6 linked regions of the Homo sapiens genome follow. The protein of the gene in region 6 purifies or fractionates together with the protein of the main gene of each other region. This does not show direct contact. Each region holds a gene or a part of one and is shown on either strand. Other genes may lie near its edges. The genes, in order: E2F3, HAUS2, C1orf198, GAN, WDFY1 and LBR.

Region 1 (3,500 bases), on a different chromosome or scaffold from region 6:
GGGATTACAGGCACGTGCCACCACGCACAGCTAATTTTTGTATTTTTAGTAGAGACAGGGTTTCACTGTGTTGGCCAGGACAGTCTCGATCTCCTGACCTCGTGATCTGCCTGCCTCGGCCTCCCAAAGTGCTGGGATTACAGGTGTGAGCCACCGCACCCGGCAAGACTTACTTTCCTAGCGTTCTCCTCCCATATCCTCTCCCCATCTCATTGGGGGGGAAAATAAGACAAAAATTCTCCAACAAAGGCTTTTCTCCTCAAACCTTTTTCATTTCCCTCTCTGATGAGCTCTGCAGTGTGATTCAAAGGTGTGTGGCCAAGTGTCTCTGATGATCCAACAAGACAGTTCACAGCTTTGCTCCTCACTTTAGCTGGTTTTCAAAAATGCTGTAAGGAAACATTCTCTGCCAATAGCAAAAGCCTGAAGCGACTCCATAAGTGGGTGAAGGAGCCGTTTTTCCCAAATCATTATTTTCTTCTGCAAACCAGTCAGAATGTCTTTTAAAACATGTTACCTAATACCAATAGAAGTTTGTGTTTCTTGCCTAGGCTTGTGGTTCCAATACAGATGGTTCTAGTCACCCTCATTTTTAACATAGTTTCTAAAAGACAAAAGTGGAGTTTTTACCTTTGGAAGCGGGTTTAGGGATATTCCCATTGTGGTCTTGGTTGTTTGTTTTCATTGGACTGTGTGTTTCAGTCTCTTCTGGACATAAGTAAACCTCAATGGGCCCTTGGGTACTTGCCAAATGTATTTGTAGGCTCTATGAACAGAAGTGGGAGAAGTTCGAATCAGAAGTTCTTTTAGAAATAAAAGCCATAGTAATTCTTGTCTAAAAATGGAAAGTAAGAACAATGTTCGTTTTTCACTTGCTTTTTCCCTACTAGTCCAACTCTATGAAAGACTGTCATCCTCTAGAGCAGGGGTCAGCAAACCACAGCCTAAGGGCCAAATCCAGTTCACCAAGTGGCTTTGTAAATAAAGTTTTATTGGAAGAGAGTCACATCCATTCCCATTGTTTATTATTGCCTCTGGCTGTTTTCGTATCACAATGTCAGAGGTGCACAGTTGAATAGTCTAGACACAGGCTGTACGGCTCGCAAAGCCAAAAATATTTACTATCTACCTGGCACTTCAATGAAAAAGTTTGCTGAGTCCTGCCCTAGAGAAAGAAAACTATTTTAGTGGGGCTTGGGGGAGAGGGGAGTCATTCTGAAAATAGCACAATGGGTGAGGTGAATTGTGTTCTTTGGATATATTCTTTTTCTGCAAATTATTACAAGGTCCTTTAAGTGTTCCAAATTCAGTATCTCCATGTTATTGTTCCTTTATGGTAGGACTTTTTCATGTTGAACTGTATACTGATGAATAGTATTCTTAAGTGCTAGGAACTGCATCTATTAAGAGAATGCAGCATACCAACATTTAAAAATCTTTTTCATCTAGGTCAAAGAGCTATTATTATCTTTTAAGGTAAGAAGTCTACCCTAGATGGAAGCGTGTAACTTTCATTCTCTTTTTATCTCCTATGCATTTTCTTTTTACTACAACTCTTTATGTTATAGTTGTAGTCTAGGCCTCTATTATCCAAGTATATCTGAAAATTACAAAAATATGCCCCCTACTTTCTTGCAATATTCTAGTCTATCAGCTAACCCAAAGCCCCATGTGATCTCTCAAAATGTTATAAGTTAGGGAGAGACTTTAAAACATTTATATATCTGTTCGTGGTGGGGACCATATACAGGATAATCAATATAAACTTTCCAAAGTGATTCAAATTGATCAAAACCGTTGATGACAAATTATGAAAAAGAGAAAGTATGAGAGGGACAGCGCATCATATACCACTTTGAACTGAACATCCTGCTAGGTCAAAGTTAGGTTGTTTGAATACTCAATGAACATCAAACCATTGAAATGTTTTCAAATGTATGGTTAAGTAAAATAAATGGGAAAGAACCATCAAGTTCATAGGAGGGGGACAGACTTTAACTATGAGTCAATGAGTCATTCAATTTCAGGCATTCCACAAAGATCTTTGCAGATGAACAAAGACGCTGTCTCCTTACCTCTATTGAGTCAGGCACTTCAAGTCTTGTTTCTGGAGGGGCTTTCACAACTATAACAGTTTGGTCTTTAAGGCCACTAATTTTTCGAATATCTTGATATGTAACATAAGCTAACGTAAAGAGTGTCAAGGAATCTTCCATCTAATTACCTCAGATATAAGTATGATGAAAATGACAAAATAGATGCATGGAATATTTTAAAGTATTTTATGACTTAGAAGTATGCATATGTGGCCGGGCGCGGTGGCTCACACCTGTAATCCCAGCACTTTGGGAGGCCGAGGCGGGTGGATCATGAGGTCAGGAGATGGAGACCAACCTGGCTAACACGGTGAAACCCCGTCTCTACTAAAAATACAAAAAGTTAGCCAGGCGTGGTGGCGGGCGCCTGTAGTCCCAGCTACTCGGGAGGCTGAGGCCGGAGAATGGCATGAACCCGGGAGGTGGAGCTTGCAGTGAGACGAGATCGCGCCACTGCACTCCAGCCTGGGCGACAGAGCGAGACTCCTTCTCAAAAAAGTATGTGTATGTCTCCCCTTCTGGATGTGCAAATGTTTAGGGTCTCCCATGAATCTTCATTTCTGGTTGACACTCTAAACAACTAAAGAAATGAATAGCTTTATCCCGCCCATTTCTAAAAAGACTATGGCTATTTAAAATATTAAACATAGAAACAGAACAGTTAAAATAAATGATCATAAGAAAATAAAAAACTAAGTGGTCAGAAATTTTATCTTGAAGCCAGGGTCCTTTGCAGCACAGGCATTCCATGAACTCCAATAAAGTGTTCTGTCACTCAAACTGAATGATGGCAGATTCCAATTTGCAGGAAAAAAAAATGTAATCTCTATTAGCCATAATTTTTTTGAAACTCCAGTTACTTCTATCTACAAGCAAGTGTCAGCAGCCACCAAGTAAATAAATAAGTAACAAATACATTAGTGGAGGAACTCAGAATACTGCTCAGGCAGACAGCTTGTTTTCTTAAGTGCACCTGGGCTGGTTGTGATTATGTACTGCCTACAGAAAAGAGTGTCATTATTTCTGTTAGAAAAATTATGCTTTGCGTGATACTATATTAACTCTATCAATATTTCAGTGTTCATGAGGAAGAAAGCAGTTTCCAGGTGCTCTGCGACTTGAATGAATTTGAGAAACACTGATTTAGGAAAAGAGAAAAGTATAATATCTCAGTACTCTTGGTAGTTATTTCCTTTTTCTTTTTGAGACAGAATCTTGCTCTGTCACCCAGGCTGGAGTTCAGTGGCCCAATCTCAGCTCACTGCAACCTCCGTCTCTGGGGTTAAATGATTCTCGTGCCTCAGCCTCCCAAACAGATGGGACTACAGGCGTGCACCACCACACCCGGCTAATTTTTTTTATTTTTAGTAGAGATGGGGTTTTACCCTGTTGCCCAGGCTGGTC
Region 2 (3,500 bases), on a different chromosome or scaffold from region 6:
AGGCATGAGCCACTGTGCCCAGCCTTGTTTTGTTTTTTTGGAAGAATAAGTTTTTGTATATCTATTATTTTCCTACAAAATAAAAAATCTGACACTTAAGATACTGATTTGCTTAAGCTAGTGAGGCACTGGCGGAGAAAGTTAGCAATGAGATCCCCAGATGCTTGCTTCGTATTTATTTGAGACAGGGTCTCACTCTGTCACCCAGGCTAGTGCAATCACAGCTCACTGCAGACTTGACCTCCTGGGCTCAGGTCACCCTCCCAGCTCAGGAATACAGGTGTGTTCCATCATGTGTTGCTAATTTTTATATTTTTTTTTTTTGTAGAAACAGGGTTTTGCCATGTTGTCCAGGCTAGTATTTATCATTAGTCATAATCTACATCTTCAATTTGATACTTGTAATACTCTGTGAGGAAGAGGGCAATAGAACTCATCTCTATTCTATTTATTGGGAAACTAAGGCAAAAATGTAAATCATTTGCTCAAGGCTTTGAGGCATATAAACAGTAGAGATGAGAACAGAATCCAGGTTTTTTCCTCCCTTAGTTGATAGTGTTTTCATCTGCCCCAGTTAAACCCCGCCAATAGAATTTTTACATATAGGCAACATTAACTCAACAATGAATGTACTTTACAACAATGAATTTACTTCACATACAAACAGTTTTTATTGTTACATGTTATGGATCTAATTTCTTTCATTAAACTCATAATTTATAATTCCCAAAACACGATGGCCAAGTTCTTCCTTTTTGCCATAGGTATAATGGTTTAAAAGCAAAGATTTTCTTTCTGATTTAATATATCACCATTAATAATGTTAACAAATACAATCACTAATTGTTTTATGAATTCTGCTACAAAGTAACTGCAAAACAAAAAGTAAACTCAGAAAACAGGTGTAACTGTTAATTTCTACTTTTCAGTCTAACCTGTGATAAACAGCTTCAATAGGTAAGTTTTCCTGGCACATGGGTTTCAACAGTCTTTGCCTAAGGGATCTCTTCTCTTTCAGCACTGCTTCCAAATGATTATTCATGCTTTGCAGAGTATGACACTTCTGAGCTATACAAATTAAAAAACAGTAATTATAGTTAGCAATAGGACAAATAACAGAATAATTTCTTCTTTGCCTTGGTTTGACACTACCCATGTCAAAAATTCATCCTATCATTACCCTCCTGTCTCCTTTTTGCTGTCTTTAATACCAATACCAATTTCATTTTCAACAACTTTCTCTTAGTCGGTTTTTGTATATCTAATATATTTCTATTATCTCTTTTCCTAGTGATAACCAAATCTAGTGCTAAATTCTTTCTCTGTGTTTCTCATCTCTACTTCTTATTCAGTTCTTATAGCCAGAGCTATATTCTTAACACAAAGTCTTTTTTCCTATCCCTGACTCTAATAGTCTATAAAAGACCATCGAAAAAGAGTCACCTTAGCTGGTGCTCTAGCTCATACCTGTAATCGCAGTGTTTTGGGAGACTGAAACGGGAGAATTGAGGCCATGAGTTCGAGACCAGCCTGGGCAACATAGCAAGACTTCATCTCTACAAAAAAATTGAAAAAACAAAAATTAGCTGGGCATGGTGGCACATGCCAGTAGTCCTAGCTACTTGAGAGAATCAGTTGAAACCACGTGTTGAAGTTACAGCGACCTGTACTTCAGCCTGGGTTACAGAGTGACACACTCTTAAAAAAAAAAAAAAAAGTCATCCTACAAGCTATTTCTGATTATCTCATTATTTTCCCCATTCAGTTAATGGCTGCCAATTGACCTTTCTTTAAAATTCTTCTTTGGAAAAATTCAGATTTGCAGAAAAGTTTCAAAAAAAGCTTGGTGAACTCACACATACATTTTACTTATTCACCGATTATTAACATTTGGCTACATTTTCTTTTTATCTTCTTTCTCTCTCTTCTCTCTCTCTCTCTCTCTCTCTCTAATTTTTGCTGATCCACTTTAGAGTAAGCTGCAGACAGCATGATATTTTTTACCTGTAAAACGTTAGCATGTATTTCCCAAGAAGAGGAACATTCTCCTATATAACTACAGCACATTATCAAATTCAAAAAATAACATTAATACAATACTACCAATATTTAATACAGTCCATATTTAAACATCACTAAGTATCCCAATAATGTCCTTTACAGCAAAAAGAATTTTAATTTTTGAGACAGGGTCTCACTCTGTCACCCAGGCTGGAGTGGAGTGCTACGATCACAACTCATTGCAGCCTCGACCTCCCAGGCTCAAACAATCCTTCTGCCTCAGCCTTTCATGTAACTGGCACTACAGGTACATGCTACAATGCTGGCTAGTTTTTGTATTTTTTTTGTAGAGATAGGGTTTCACCATGTTGGCTGGTCTTGAACTCCCGGGCTCAAGCAATCCACCCACCTTGGCCTCCCAAAGTGCTGGGTTTACAGGCGTGACTCTCCACGCCTGGCCACAAGAACATTTTCTCATCAAATATTCAAAACATTGCCAGCCATGGTGGTATGTACCTGTGATCCCAGCTACTTGGGAGGGTGATTTGGGAGGACTGCTTGAGCCATTCAGGACTACCCTAGGCAACATAGGAAGACCCCATCTCATTAAAATAAAAAATCGATCCATGATCATACAGTGCTTTAGTTGTCATGTCCCTTTAGTCTCTTTTAATCTGAAAAGTTCCTCAGACTTTGTCTTTCAAGTTCTCCTGACTTTGAAGAGCCAATTTGGTGACTTTTTATGCTATTTGTACTACTCAAGCCAACAGAACTTCTATTTCAGCATAGAAATACAAGATTTCATTAGCTTTGGGACAACACCTGGAAAAATGATGGTGTATCATAATTTGACTGACTGGTGCTTATTTACAGTAATCCAAGAAAAAGTTGAAATTCCAGTGATTATCCACTTAACCAAACCACTTACCCAAAAAGAAAGGATGAACAACATCTGCTGTATCTTTTTCTAGTTTCAGGAGTTCAATTTCCAGGTTTTTCTACATGAGGAACAAAAGTAACATTTAGCTCAATCAGAAAGTGTCCATGGCCAGGTGCGGTGGCTCACTCCTGTAATCCCAGCACTTTGGGAGGCTGAGGCAGGTGGATCACCAGAGGTCAGGATGTAGTGAGCCGAGATTGTGCCACTGCACTCCAGTATGGGTGACAGAGTGAGACTCTGTCTCAAAAAAAAAAAAAAAAGAGTCCAGGGGATTTACTGAAGTTTTTCATTTTGCTGTTCTTGCCCTGCTGCTGCTACTCTTACTACTATTACTGTAACTACTATTAGTAAGTAAACATGTAGCTAGCTAGTTATGTGCTAGACACTGTTCTAAGTTCAAAGGAATTGCTGTTTGAACCAATAAAGTTTTTTTGTTTTTGAGACAGGGTCTCCGTCTGTCACCCAGGCTGGAGTGCAATGGCCCAAACATGGCTCACTGCAGCCCCGATTTCCTAGGCTCAAGTGATCCTCCCAGCTCAGCCTCCCAAGTAGCTGGGAC
Region 3 (3,500 bases), 5.4 Mb from region 6:
CTGCTTCTCTTTAGAGTGGGGACTATCACCTATTTTATGGAAATACTTCTTTCAGAGGAAGCCCTCAGTGCCGAGTCTCAGAGAAAGAGTGCTGGTTAGGGAGGCAGGGAACTGAGCCTGTCTGTAAGGAGGAGCTGATGGGCAGGAGGATGTGAGACAGAAAACAGAACGGAGAGATGGGCAGGTACCGGAGAAGGCAGGAAACAAGAGGGCTGAAAGCACTAGCTTAAGAAGGTGCAGAAACACGAAGAGGACAGGCTAGAGCACTGATGTGGAGCCGAGGTGGGCAGAAGGTACTAGCACCGCTGGATCCTCCCTCCTCGGGAGGACAGCACGTGCAGCCATCTGCCGAGGGAGGTGTGGAAGTACTGGAAACCTGCTCTGGGGGACATTCAATGTTATCAGTGATGATCTCAACTCAACAACAAAATAACCAAAAATTTAAAAATGGGCAAGGGACCATTGGACATTTCTCCAAAGAAGATACACAGATGGCCAATAAGCACATGAAATGAGGCTCAACATCATTCACGATCATGGACAGGCAAGTCTAAACCACGGTGAGACACCACCTCATACCCCTTCGCATGGCACCAGCAAAGACACAGAAAATAACAAGTGTTGCAAGGGAGTGGAGAAACGCGAACCCACATTGATGGGAATGTAAAATGACGCAGCTGCTGTGGCGAACAGTATGCAGGTTCTTCAAAAAAGTAGAAATAGAACCACCATGTGATCCAGCAATTCTACATCTGGGTATGCACCCAGGAGAAGGGAAAGCAGGGGCTGGAAGACTTATTTGTACATACACGTTCACAGCAGCACTATTCCTAACAGACAACAATAGCCAGAAGGTGGAAGCAACCCAAGTGTCTGTCGATGGATGAGTGGATACACAAAATGTGGTCTAACCACACGATGGAATATTAGCCTTAGAAGGCAATTCTACACTTGCTACAACATGAATGAGCCTTGAAGACGTCACATTAAGTAAAGTAAGTCAGTCACAAAAGGGTAAATACTATATGGTGCTACTTATATGAGGTACCTAGAGGAGTCAAATTCACAGACACAGAAAGTGGAATGGTGGTTGCCAGGAGCTTGCGGGGAGGGATGAATGAGAAGTTAGTGTTGAACGGGTCCAGAGCTTTAGTTCTGCAGGATGAAAGGAGTTCTGGAGATGGATGGTAGTGATGGTTACACAGCATTGAGAATGTACTGAAATGCCACCAAATTTATACTGTAAAATGGTTAAAATGGTAAATGTTTGTATATTTTACCATAATAAAAACTTTTAAAATTCAGTATATGGAACCAGCCCAAATGCCCACCAATCAATGAGTGGATAAAGAAACTGTGGTATATATATACGATGGAATACTACTCAGCCAAAAAAGGAATGAATTAATGGCATCTGCAGCGACCTGGATGTAATTGGAGACTATTATTCTAAGTGAAGTAACTCAGGAATGGAAAATCAAACATCATATGTTCTCACTCATAAGTGGGAGCTAAGCTATGAGGATGCAAAGGCATAAGAATGACACAATGGACTTTGGGGACTCGGGGAAAGAGTGGGAGGTGGGTGAGGGATAAAAAACTACAAATTGGGTTCAGTGTCCACTGCTCGGGTGATGGGTGCACCAAAATCTCACACATCACCACTAAAGAACTTATGTCACCAAATACCACCCAAAACCTATGGAAATAAAAAATTTAAAAAATAAAAATTAAAAAAAAAAAGAGTGACCCACAAGAACCAAGGAGTCTCAAGGGCCAGAGGAGGATGGGTGAGGCTACCATGGAGGCAACTGCATCCTGGGCTCACTCCTCAGCAAGGCAGCCAGGAGCCCAGCGAGGCCCACAGAGGGGCAAGACCCAGTGAGGCCTCTCAAGTGTGCCTGCCTGCTTTGCCAACAGGCAGCTCCCCTGGCCCAAATCCAGACCAGTCCTAAAGAACAGACCATTGCCTCTATGGACAGCTCCCAAAAAGAAGGCCCAACACAGCTTTGAGCTGTGACAGCCCTGGGCGCAGCGCCTTCCAGGGGCCTCTTCTGATAGCAGCCCGCGCACTGGGGAAAGCGCAGTGGGCCACGGAACCCTGACTGGTAAACAAATTAGGGCACCCAGATGGACTCGCAAAACTTGTCTTGTTGCATATTTGTTGGTGGCTCAGCACCCTGAGCCTAGGCATCCTCTGAGGAAGAGGCAGGGGAAGGAGAAGAAAAAGAGCATGGGCACCTGTGGCCTGCCTGCTTTGTGGGGGACCCTCTCGGTTCCCGTGGAATAAGGCACCATCCCATCTGAGGACGCGCTGGTAAAGGCCACTCACCTGTGCAAACTTGGGTTCCGAGAACAGGGTGTCTTCCCCATCGTCCTGCCTGACATCAGGAGATGGCAGCTTCCCCTCGAGCTGGGAGGGGGCAGCCTCGTGCAGTGCACTGCTGAAGGCCTGGACAGGCTGGGGTCTCTCACGTTCGGTGCTCACGTTGGGAAGAGGACGCTGCTCCTGACGGAGGGTGCTGGGCCTTTCCACCTTGGCCTCCCTGTCCTTCGGGGCAGGTTCCTGCCGGTAGCAGGGAGGCAAGACCTTTTCCCCCTTCTCCATGGACTTGATCTGGCTAGGGGTCAGCGACTGGAACTCGGCCTCAGGCCCCTCCCCTCGGGACCGCTCAGCATTGATCTTCCAGAATGACGCTTCCTCCTCCTTCCTGGTGGGGCCCAGGGCGTCCAGGCTGGAGGACCTGCTGCCTTGGGAGGACTTGAGGGCCTGGGAGCCCTGGGAAGCTTTGGACAGTGGTCTGGGCTCGCTGGCGGCGGTGCCGTTGCTCGGCTCCTGGATGGATAGGGCGGAGATACTGAACTCCATCTGACTCTAGGGTGGGACATGAGAAAGGACAGAAAAAAGAAAGAGATCCTGAGAATCGACCGTCACAAGTGTGCCAGCTCACGCACCCCTCCTCAGCATAAGGACGCACACCAGCCACACACGAGTTGTTGCCCATGTGCTGGAACTGTCTGTCCTGAGTGGTGGGTATGGTCAGGACTCCCATCGCACACCTGAAATGCATCAGAAGCTTAAATGCCAAGGCCGGGTGACAGAGTGTGGGTGGTGGTCCCCTCCCAAATCTCATGTCGAACTGTAATCCCCAGTGCTGGAGGTGAGGCCTCGTGGGAGGTGTCTGGATCACAGGGGCGGATGTTGTCTTCATGATGGTGACTTCATGGCTTGGTGCTGTCTTCATGATAGTGAGTCCTCATGAGATCTGGTCGTTTAAAAGGGTGTGGCACCTCCCCCTGACTCTCTCCCTCTTGCTCCTGCTCTGCCATGTGAGATACCTGCTCTCCTCCGCCTTCCACCATGAGCCACAGCCCCCTGAGGCCTCCCCAGAAGCCAAGCAGATGCCGATGCCATGTTTCCTGTGCAGCCCGCAGAACCGTGAGCCAATTAAACCTCCTCTCTTTATAAATTACCCAGTCTCAGGTATTTCTTTAAAACA
Region 4 (3,500 bases), on a different chromosome or scaffold from region 6:
AGCTGCTGTGTCCGCCTCCACTGCCAAACCTGGCCCAGGGCATCCCACTTTCCATCTGAACAACTGCAGCACCTGCTGAAACGGCCGCTGGTTCCACTCTTGGCTTTTATAGAGCACACCCAGCAGCACTGCATTGGAGTGACTTTAAAACAATACACAAACAAATATTCCTCTTTTAAAATACACCACTGCCCATCCATAGCCCGTAAGATAAAGCCTAAACTCTCTATCAGACTCAACTATGCCATCAATTGCTTTTTTGTCCCTTTCTCATATCCTATCACCTCCCCAGCCAGCTCCCAATACACAACATGGCAGCAGAAGTTTCATCTTCTTTGGAAGCAGTCTAAATGCCAGCTCTAACTCAGGGATCACAGGCCTTCCCAGCCTCTAATCTGTTGTCGATGCCATCCCACCCTTTGCTCACCATCTCCAGGTATGTGGTGTTCTGTTCCCAGAGAGGCCTGACCTAGTCCTGGTGCCACCCCTGATCCTGGTGCCTCCCCCTGCTCTTCTCATGCCTAGGTCTCCTCCTCCCTCAGATCTCAGTTTCAATGGCACCACCTCGGAGCAGGGATCCCGTCACCCAGGCCACAGCAGCAGCCATGCTCATCCTCTGTGGACTTCCTTCGGCAAACTCATATGGCTCTGTAATTAGACCCCTTTACTGCTCACCTCCCCAGGTAGCCCCCATGGATGCTGGCACTCCGTCTAGAAAGGGCAATGAACAAACGGGCATATTAGAGAGGCTTAGCCAAGAACTGATGTTCTCTACTTAAAGAAAGTCATTTCTGTAAATGTGATTAATTGGGGTAACACTATAATAATAAAGGGTCAAATCAGCCAATTAAATTCTTTTAGGGCAGACTATCAGAAGTTTCTACTCTGATAAACACAGCAAATCTATTCTCTGCTCATTCTTGAGATTCTGAAACTACCCATAACACAAGGATGTTATAAAAAAACTAAGTGAAATCAAAAGTAATCTTTAAATCTTTAGTTTTATGTTTATTTCCTTCTCCAGCCCCACAGAGATAGAAAAATAAATAGACTGACATAGGTCTCCACATACTGGGTTAGTTTTGATACTCTCTGTGGGAGGCCACTGAATACAATGCTCCAATGGCAGGCAGCACAAGAGGATGGAGTCCTGGAGGGCGCAATCCTCTGTAAATGACTGAAATGGAGGCTCCAGGAGGACAGTGGCCTTGTCAGTTCGTTGCCACCATCTTGCCAGTACATAGATGCTGCTGAGATGTCTTGAGTTATCTCCTGTGTATGTATTAAACGACTAAACCTGTAATCAACTCCCTAAACAACACCCTAATTATATAGAAGGTCCCTTTACTGTGAAATATATCTGTGAAGAAACAATACACAGTATATCTCAATAACTTTAGACAATGCTAATTCTTGAACTGCAATCTATTATTGGTAAACACAACCCCACAGCATATGGGTTAAGGCAGTGATGACATTTCTTAAGGATGTCCCAAGACTTATTATGACAGTGAATATTTTCATAACCCCTTTTCTGATCACTATGAAAGAAGCCTATAAATAAAGGAAATGGTAACCTCTTTTGCTCAAGCACCCCACTCAGGGGGTGATAAAAATGAGATGTCTATTCCTTTCCTACCAACAGCAGGCATTGTAATTTTTAGGCGGGGAACAAAGTTGATAGCTTTGGTCGCACAAGACAGTAGCTGTTAAGGAGGCCAAGCAGGAGAACAAACAAACCCACCAAAAACCCCGAGAGAAGTCTCTTATCTGTTATACTAAGTGTCAAATCCCTGTACCAACTTTCATGTAAGGAAGAGAAGCTAGAAGTTGTGGGAAACTATTCCCTGGACTAACCAAATGGAAGACTATACAATTAACCAATGGGTCCTGCTGGCCTCCAGCTCCATCACTGAAGTAGACTGGGGGCTGTAGCATGGAGAGGAGAATGGCAAACACGAATATCAGGGAACTTTCTAAGGATTTTCATTGTCCTTCAAAATCCCGCTGTCCTTAAACTTCTGGCTTCATTTCTAGTGAATGTTCTCTGTGGGTTAGAAAAGACTCATATCAAACTCACAGCCTAAATGTGAGGTTTCAGTATGAAGTTTCTTACAATTCAGGGACTGATCAATATAAACAATTTAAGTGACAAAAGTGCAAATATTTTGAGCTCAGTAATACTAAACCATTTACTATTATTCAGAGGTGTAGGCAACTGGTTACTGATGAATGCTAATAGGACCATAAAACTATGTTTCAAAATATATCTAGTCATATTAATATGTTACCATAAAAATCACAAGCATCAAATGGTCTTTAAAATTGTTCTTAAAAACATAAACAACTTTGTAGTTGAGAGAACCACAAAATATCTACGAGCAAAAATATACATTTAAGTTTCTATAAAAACTCAAATCCAAATAAACCCCAAAGATATTTAATTGGTCTGTATTTCATTATTCAACAGTCAACTTTTAAAAACTAGTCCTCCTATCTTCCATTTATGATACGCATTGGCCCTCTAAGCCTTACTCTATTGAAATGGAGGCTCCAGAAGGGCAAAGGCCTTGCCAGTTGGTTGCCACCATCTTGCTAGTACCTAGCCGCTGCTGAGATGTCTTATCTCCTCTGCATGTGGTGAACACTGGAGATAACCAACAAAATATTTCACCAAGATCTTATTTACCTAAGTATTCCATTTTTCTAACTTATTTGAACAGAGGAAAAGTCCAAATCCCTTCACTATAATAGCAAATGGCAAAGTACTACGTATTTCTATTTTGCAGTATTTCTGTAATAATCTTTATGAGAAATTAGGGCATTCACATTCCCAGAGAGAAATGAATGCAGCAAACATCTGACCATCATTCTATGGCTAAGTCACTCTTTGGCCCTAAGTACTTAGGAAGATGATTTAACTCTGCTCTTCCAAGCACCAGAATCAGGAACTCTGGTAGAGTGTCGGGCCATCTAGATGGACATAGAATCTTTATCCTCCACAGAGCCAGAGCTGCCACCTTTACCTGAGCCTTTGATTTCCTTCCTTCTTTGGATTTGTTGTGGCTTAGGAGGAAGAGAACCCATGGGAAGCGCTCAAATGCAAGGTCGCAACCATAGCCTGCCACGTGTCACATCTCACACCCCCGTATCTCCACCCTTAACCCAGAATTCAAACTCACAAATCATTCATTTATATTACAGCTTTAGTACACAAAATGATAGTCTTGTGTCTTTCAGAAGGATGATGCAACCCTGTGAAGAACTTATTGCATGGCACTCACAGACCAAATGAACCCTTATTTGTCCTAATTATGTTTTCCTTACAAATTATAAATAGATTTTAAGTCCCACTTTGATATCATAAGAACTCATTAACACTTTAAACAATGGATAAGGCGGTTTTGAAAACTGGATGCTTACTCTATATCATCCAAATATAAATCCTAAGGAACCAGAGTTTCTATGTGGAAGAGCATTTTACTTCAATCCTAAATTAT
Region 5 (3,500 bases), on a different chromosome or scaffold from region 6:
AGTGTTTTGAGCAAAGTAGTATGTGGTTGACAAAGAAAAATGAATAAAGAGATTATTTCACCATGAAGTATGACAAAAATACATCATGAAATCAGTATATATGTGCTAATAATGTCTTAACAACTCTCAGAAAGATTTGCTGAGCATACTTTGTAGAGAGGGAAGATGAATACCTAAATTCTAGAAACAAGTATCATTCATTATATTACCATCTGCTTCTTAGGAAAGAACTAGCAGATTATTAAAGCTAAACACAGCAGAGGAAATGTCTACTGTGCAGAAATGGTTAAGTCTGTATCATTCAACCAGTAGCTAGTTATGCAGTACCTGGTGGAGTACAGACTATGTGGGAAGATAAGATGAATAAACACAAAGCAACAGGAACTAATACCTGATTGTAATTAACTAGGCATCATCAGTAATATACTAGGAGTGTTGAAGGAAGCTCAGAAAGGACAGAGAATGATGGGCTGGGAAGAATTATTCAATGGAGGAGGTGGAACTTGAAGTGGATCTAGGAGATGAAGGAGGGTCTGAATACAGGAGAGAGGGCAAGTGAGGTTCCTGGTGAGGGAGGCAAAGGCACCCAGGTGGGAAATGTACCAGGTGTGAGTGGGACAGAACACACACTGACTTCACTGGACACAAAAGAACCATAATAAATGAGAGATAGAAGGTGGAAATAAAGCTTAGCAGGGAGCAGTTATGGGGTTCCCAAAGTCCTTTTTTTTTTTTTTTTTTTTGGGGACAGAGTCTTGCTTTATTGCCCAAGCTGGAGGGCAGCAGCATGATCTTGGCTCACTGCAACCTATGCCCCTTGGGTTCAAGCAATTCTCGTGCCTCAGCCCAGCTTCTTGGGAGGATTACAGGCATGAGCCCCTACACCTGGCTAATTTTTGTATTTTTAGTAGAGACAGAGTTTGACTATGTTGGCCAGGCTGGTCTCTAACTCCTGGCCTCAAGCAATCTGCCTGCCTCAGCTTCCCCATGTTCTGTGATTACAGGCATGAGCCACTGCGCCCGGCCCCCAAAGTCCTTTTACAGACATGATTAAATAAGGAGCTAATGAAAGGTCATGAGCAGGAAAAAGACACAATAAAAGCCTAGTTAAAGATAGGAGATTAGTGGGACAGATCCAAGTACAGTATGCTGGAACTCAGGGAAGCCAGTTAATAGGCTTTGAAAAATGAGGTTTAAAAGATGATGAGGACAAACACTAGGGTAATTATGGGCAGGTGGGCAGAAAAGAGTTCCCACAGCAGGCCTGCTGCTGCTGTCCTTAGAAAGTCTTGCTTGCAAGGTTGGCCCTTGGCAGGTGTCTGGGACCTTGTTTATCCAGAGGGGACCTCACCATTCCCTAACTCCTAAGAATGGCTCACTGTGCTTCATGCCTGTATAAAATATGTGGTTTATGTTGACCACCTACCTTCCTTCTGAGAGTTTGGAATTTTGGAACATTAGCCAAGGGCACCTACATGACCAGCCTCTAACACTGAATAAAGTCTCTAAGGAGCTTCCCTGATAAACAATATTTCACACATGTTGTCTTAATTCAATCTGAATTAGCCTGTCCTGTGACTCCACAGGAAGAGGACTCTTGGAAGCCTTGTGTCTGGTTTCCTCTGGATTTCACCCCATGTGCTGATTTTGTTTTGCGTCTTTTGGCTATGATAAATCACAGCCATGCGTATGACTATAATGTGTCAATCTTTCTAGTGAATCAATGAACCCGATCTTGAGGATCTCAAATATAGCAGGGGAAAGATGTCTAAGTGAAACTAATCACTGACATGACCTGCAAGTAACCAAATATGGAAATAAAGAAAAGGCATGACTCAAAGGCAGTTCTAAGAATTTAGGATTGTAAATAACCCCTCAAATGGTATTGTCCTATTCAAACAGGAAAAATTTTTTTATTTTCACTTATTCACGTGCACACACAAACATGCATACAAAGTAGAAACATATTACTCTTTCGTAAGATTAAAGTAACAAAATGCAAAATAAGTGGAAATGAAAATAATAATAGCTAACACTTGTATAGTGCTTTCTCTGTCCCAGTCTTTAAGATTAAAGCAATTAAATGGAAAATAAATGGGAATGAAAACAATAACAACTAACACTTGCATAATGTTTTCTCTGTGCTAGGCACTGTTCCACGTGGTTTAATTCACCTAATCCTCACAAAACTCTGTAAAGCAGGTACAAAACGGACTCATGTCCATTTTGCACATGAGAAAACTGTGATACAGTGAGGTTAAATAACTTGTCTAAGATCACAGGGCTGGGATTCAAACTGAGGCATTCTGGCTCCCAAGCCTTTGTTCTTAACTATGCTATAAAAAGAAAATGATTGTAACAATGAAGGATCACCCTAACAATACAGGAGTAAATGTGTGGGGTGGCCACCCAGGCTTCCTGCCTTCTCAAGTCTTCAGTTTATTTTATAACACAAATTAAAGTCTACTTTTAGGCTCTGCATGACAATGAAAATACAGCAGTTAACATCCTGGTTTTCTGTATTAACTAATGAATTCCAGCTATGCCAGCCTTCCTCCCAGGCATAACACTTAAAAATCAAGTTATTTATTTAAGATTGTTTCTATGTGAACAATTGGTAAATACACAAATTTTTCCCCAAACCATCTTAATAAACTTAGATATATCTAAGTGGAAGCAAATATATTACATATTTGGTATAATTTTTAAAAAAGGAAAATGCTAAAAAACATCTAAAAGTTGGTTTTCTGTAATCTTTACTCTTTCCCAGCCTAAGTGCAACATCTCAAAACATTTTAAATCACATGAGATTTATCTTTAACTTGGGACAAACAAAATTGAGTTTCCTGCAGAAACCAATCTTGGCCTACGAGCCCCTAATGCAACAGTATAAGTACGTCCATCCACAAACTCTATTTCTCAAAAGTGAAGACAGTAGGCCTATAGCCTTAACTTATTTATAAGGCTTTATAAAGCTTTTACCTTTTAAAAATTGTATCATTCAATCAACTGACTGTCTACATTTTTGGTGCAGTCCACAGCAAAAAAGTCCAAAAAGCAAACATACTGGTTCCTACTGTCTCACCATTTTAGTTCCGCTCTGAAAGCAGAGTCTTATTTTCTGTTTCCCCTACCAGGAAAGTCACCACTGTAGTTCAAATTCTTAAACTTAAATTTAAATTAAAGAGCTTAAGGTAATTATTACTTCAGCAAAATACTAATGACTTCATACAAGAAGTAGTACCATTTTCTATTAACCATTCACGAGACATTAATCCATAAAGGTTTCTAAGCAGAACCCTAAGCTGACCACCCAAACCACTAATGACCTGTGACTCCCAGGTGTAATGGCATTAAGCTTTGATATTCCACATTGGCTTAATACTCTTTGGAGTGCTGACCGTATCTAGCTTTGTCATATGCAGTTTGATTACAGTGAACTAGGTGGCTATCTGTGAATGACCCCAGGTAAATATATCCCAGAAGGTGACAAAAAAAAA
Region 6 (3,500 bases):
CCTTTTTAAATTTTACCTAGTTTTAGGCTTGGAGTTGCAGATAGAGAGCAAAGAGTTCCCTTCCACCCTTCATTCTGTTTCTCACAACATTAACCTTGGAGGAAACCGTAGTGTAGTGATGAAGAACAGCAGATTAACATAGTGACAGCATTGGTTACCAAGTCCACAGGCCTCAGTCGAGTTCACCAGTTTTTCCGCTGTTGTCCTTTTTCTGTTCCAGGAACCTCGACAGGACTCCACAATACATTTAGTTGTTATTCCTTCTTAGTCTTCTCTAGTCTAATAGTTGTTTAGGCTTTCCTTGTCTCTCATGACCTTGATACTTTTTGGAAGGTACTGGTTGGTTATTTTGTAAGTGTCCCTCAGTTTGGGTCATTCCAGTGTTCTCTTTGATTGCGGTAAAGTTACCCACTGTGACAGGAACACAGAAATGATAGCTGTGTCCTTCTCAGTGCATTGGGTCCAGGGGCCCATGGTGCTGAGATGTCTTATTCCTGGTGGCGGGTAGGAGTTACGGTGGCGTCTGCCAGGTGTCTCAGCTGTGAAGCTCACTCATGCCTTTGTAGTGCTAAGGTCTCTGGGGAGGTGCTTTGAGGCTATATACTTTCCCCTTTTGTTTCAGGTGGTTATTAACTTGGTGATGCTTTTGGCTGAAATGAAAATACAGGACCGCGCTGTTCCATCCTTGGCCATGATTTTAGTTAATAGTTTCCAGCTTCTCTATGTGGTGGATGCTCTCTGGAATGAGGTAATTAATTTTAAGAGCCGAGGCCTTGGAGTCAGATGGCTTTGAGTGGGTGAGTGACCTGTCAGAGCCTCGGCTTCTTGCACACAAAGTGAGGGGAGCATGGCCTGCCTCCAAGGCTGCTTGAGAGGAGGACGAGGCCATCCATGTGAAGCTGACGAGGGAGCACTGACAGGTGGGAAGTTTCTAGGCATTTGGGAGTGCTTCAGTGTTTATCAGCTGTTCTTGTGTTTAAAAGTAATATTCTAAATATTTAAGATTGGTGGATCTTGGTTTTGTTTTTGTGGGTGGTGGTAATTATGGTATCACATGAAAATGGATGGATTATTACTAAATTAGAATGGTGTTTCTTGGACTGTCAAGAGTCACCTAGTTTTTAAATAATGGGGGAGATGTTTTATTGTTAATGTTTTAAAATACAAAGACTAGCTCTAATTAGATGAATGTAAAATCAGAAATCAAGATGCATTGAGGAAACCAGTTGAAATAAGGCTAAGTTTCCATCTTGTGTCTTTTTTCATACATTGATTAGTCTTTCTACTAGTTGAAGACTGGTAAATGTTTTGTTTGTTTTCTCTGTCTCAGCCAGCATATTCCTTTTAAAAATTTTGTCTTCCTCAGGCTTATTTTACAAGTATTTTATCGTATTTACTGTTATCTTTGTAATTATCTCCAAATTCCAACTCTAGTTTTCTTTCCATATTAAAAACAAATCTGGCAGCTGTACATCATAATGTTCCAAAACAAGTTTTAGTGACAGTCTGTTGAGACAATCTGCTGACATTTTGAGAGAAGACCTTTTCTCTTTGAGCCTGGAACATTAAAAAAAATTATATTATTTGGTCATCAATACTATGTATCTCCCCCACCCCTGCTGGCTGGTCTTTAATTTTGGCCTTCTATGCAAAATTGCAGAGAACATTTAGTCAGAACAACTTCGCAAGTTTGATATTGGTGTTTCGATGATCTCCTTGTTATTTAGGAAGATTAGGGCCACTTTGAGGTAAACCTCAATTACAAGCGGTGGGATTAGTGCTATCCGCTAATTACGGGTTCCTGTTGCGCTCCTACCACTTCACAGACCCTGGCTCAGAGCTTGGGAAGCTGTGAAGGTGGTGATAACACTTCAAATTGACTTTAAAAATTCCACGTCGACCCAAAATTAAACATGTTTTTGAAATTAAAAAACAACTGTTTTGTAAATGCACTTACTGTTACCAGTGTAGCTTTGTTTGCTGTTATAGAATGAATCGCCAAAAGAGCATATAGGTTACAGTTTGCAAATCAAATGATATTTCACAGTTGTGCTCACCTCAGAGGCTTCTTTAAACCTTCCTTTCTAGTAGCTTTCCACTGATCAGTGATTATTTCTTCTGGTTTCTTCTATTACTAGCTTTCTGCCATGTTGTGGTTGTCACTTTTTAATTGGCTTAGAAGTTGATATTTTCTATAGATTTAGCCAAACATTGACTTGTGTTAAAAGAAAATTTTTTGCATCTTAAGGCAAAACGCTTAATGCAATATTAACATAGCCCCAGGGGTAGAGAACTAGAGTTAGGAAATTGTTTTCTGTCTGTTCTCAGTATCTCAGCCAGATGATAATAAGCTTCTTGAGGAAAGATTGTATTTTATGATTTCTTCAGCATTCTGGCATGCCACTGGGCAATTAGCAGATGCTTAATAACTTCTGTCAGGTCACTTGATAGAAATCCCTCTGTATTCAAGAATGTGCTATACCTTAAGAAAACTGAGACTACCTGTTTAAATATGCATGACCCTTCCTCTGAGCCGTCCTGTGAAAGCCTTGGGGCTCAGGAGCTGGTGGGGCTAAGGTCCTCCCCCTACCCGGCATTGGGTGCTTACCCTTTGCCCTCTCACTGCCACTCACCACACCTGCTTTTATCTGCTCCCACCAATTTGTCACCTTTATCCTCTTTTGGACCAGGAATCAGATCACAGGCCTTGAGAGAGAAGAATAAGACACTCTTGGGGACAGAAAGTTAAAACACCGTGTGTCCTCACTTATATGTGGGCGCTAAAAAAGTTGATGTCATAGAAGTATAAAGTAGAACAGAGGATATGGGAAGGTGGGAAGGGTAGGGGGAAGGGAAGGATAGGGAGAGGTTTGTTAAAGGATACAAAATTACCACTCGATAGGAGGAGTAAGTTCTAAGTTCTAGTATTCTATACCACTGTAGGATGACTATAGTTAACAGTGATACATAGTTTCAAATAGCTAGAAGGATATTGAATATTCCTAACACAAAGAAAGAATGTGTTTGAGATGATGGATATGCTAATTACCTTGATTGGATTACTATATATTACATGTATTGCAACATCACTGTGTACCCCATAAATATGTACGATTATTACATGTCAATTTTTTTTTTTAAAGAGAATAAAGTACTCTGGTTAACTAAAGAGTATAAGCCTAAGGAGCTAGATTTTGTGAGATTGGTTTTTCTGTTTCATGTGACATCTGTTTTTCTGTTCCATGGCCTATTTGCTTTCTTTTCTGGAAAAAAATGCTATTTAGAGGTACCACTCTTTTTCTTTAACCTAGAACTTTGATTCTCCAACAGAGCTTATACTGGCTAATATTTCTACATCAGTGGTCTGTACTGAGGTTCTGGGTAGTTTAGAGATTCCCTTAGGCCAGACCTTCAGAGTGTTGACCTTGGTGGTGGTTCCGTATTCTAGAGTCTGGCCTGCCCGTATCCTGGGCCAGAGGCGATCTGGCTCATGCTAACCA

What was found.
Region 1: the proteins of LBR (region 6) and E2F3 purify together in Homo sapiens (pull-down; one large-scale study listed by IntAct). This does not show direct contact.
Region 2: the proteins of LBR (region 6) and HAUS2 purify together in Homo sapiens (affinity purification with mass spectrometry; one large-scale study listed by BioGRID and IntAct). This does not show direct contact.
Region 3: the proteins of LBR (region 6) and C1orf198 purify together in Homo sapiens (co-immunoprecipitation; one large-scale study listed by IntAct). This does not show direct contact.
Region 4: the proteins of LBR (region 6) and GAN purify together in Homo sapiens (co-immunoprecipitation; one large-scale study listed by IntAct). This does not show direct contact.
Region 5: the proteins of LBR (region 6) and WDFY1 purify together in Homo sapiens (co-immunoprecipitation; one large-scale study listed by IntAct). This does not show direct contact.

Annotation. Positions count from the first base shown.
Region 1 is NC_000006.12:20,485,379-20,488,878, reverse strand, and holds part of E2F3 (transcription factor E2F3), read right to left. Parts: intron 2,191-3,500; coding exon 2,076-2,190; intron 767-2,075; coding exon 631-766; intron 1-630.
Region 2 is NC_000015.10:42,558,838-42,562,337, reverse strand, and holds part of HAUS2 (HAUS augmin-like complex subunit 2), read right to left. Parts: intron 3,000-3,500; coding exon 2,930-2,999; intron 1,557-2,929; coding exon of another isoform or gene 1,468-1,556; intron 1,069-1,467; coding exon 936-1,068; exon of another isoform or gene 648-935; intron 1-647.
Region 3 is NC_000001.11:230,841,022-230,844,521, forward strand, and holds part of C1orf198 (uncharacterized protein C1orf198), read right to left. Parts: intron 2,876-3,500; coding exon 2,333-2,875; intron 1-2,332.
Region 4 is NC_000016.10:81,321,462-81,324,961, reverse strand, and holds part of GAN (gigaxonin), read right to left. Parts: intron 1-3,500. UniProt on the Homo sapiens protein: Probable cytoskeletal component that directly or indirectly plays an important role in neurofilament architecture.
Region 5 is NC_000002.12:223,935,336-223,938,835, forward strand, and holds part of WDFY1 (WD repeat and FYVE domain-containing protein 1), read right to left. Parts: intron 1-3,500. UniProt on the Homo sapiens protein: Positively regulates TLR3- and TLR4-mediated signaling pathways by bridging the interaction between TLR3 or TLR4 and TICAM1.
Region 6 is NC_000001.11:225,407,539-225,411,038, reverse strand, and holds part of LBR (delta(14)-sterol reductase LBR), read left to right. Parts: intron 1-622; coding exon 623-748; intron 749-3,500. UniProt on the Homo sapiens protein: Catalyzes the reduction of the C14-unsaturated bond of lanosterol, as part of the metabolic pathway leading to cholesterol biosynthesis.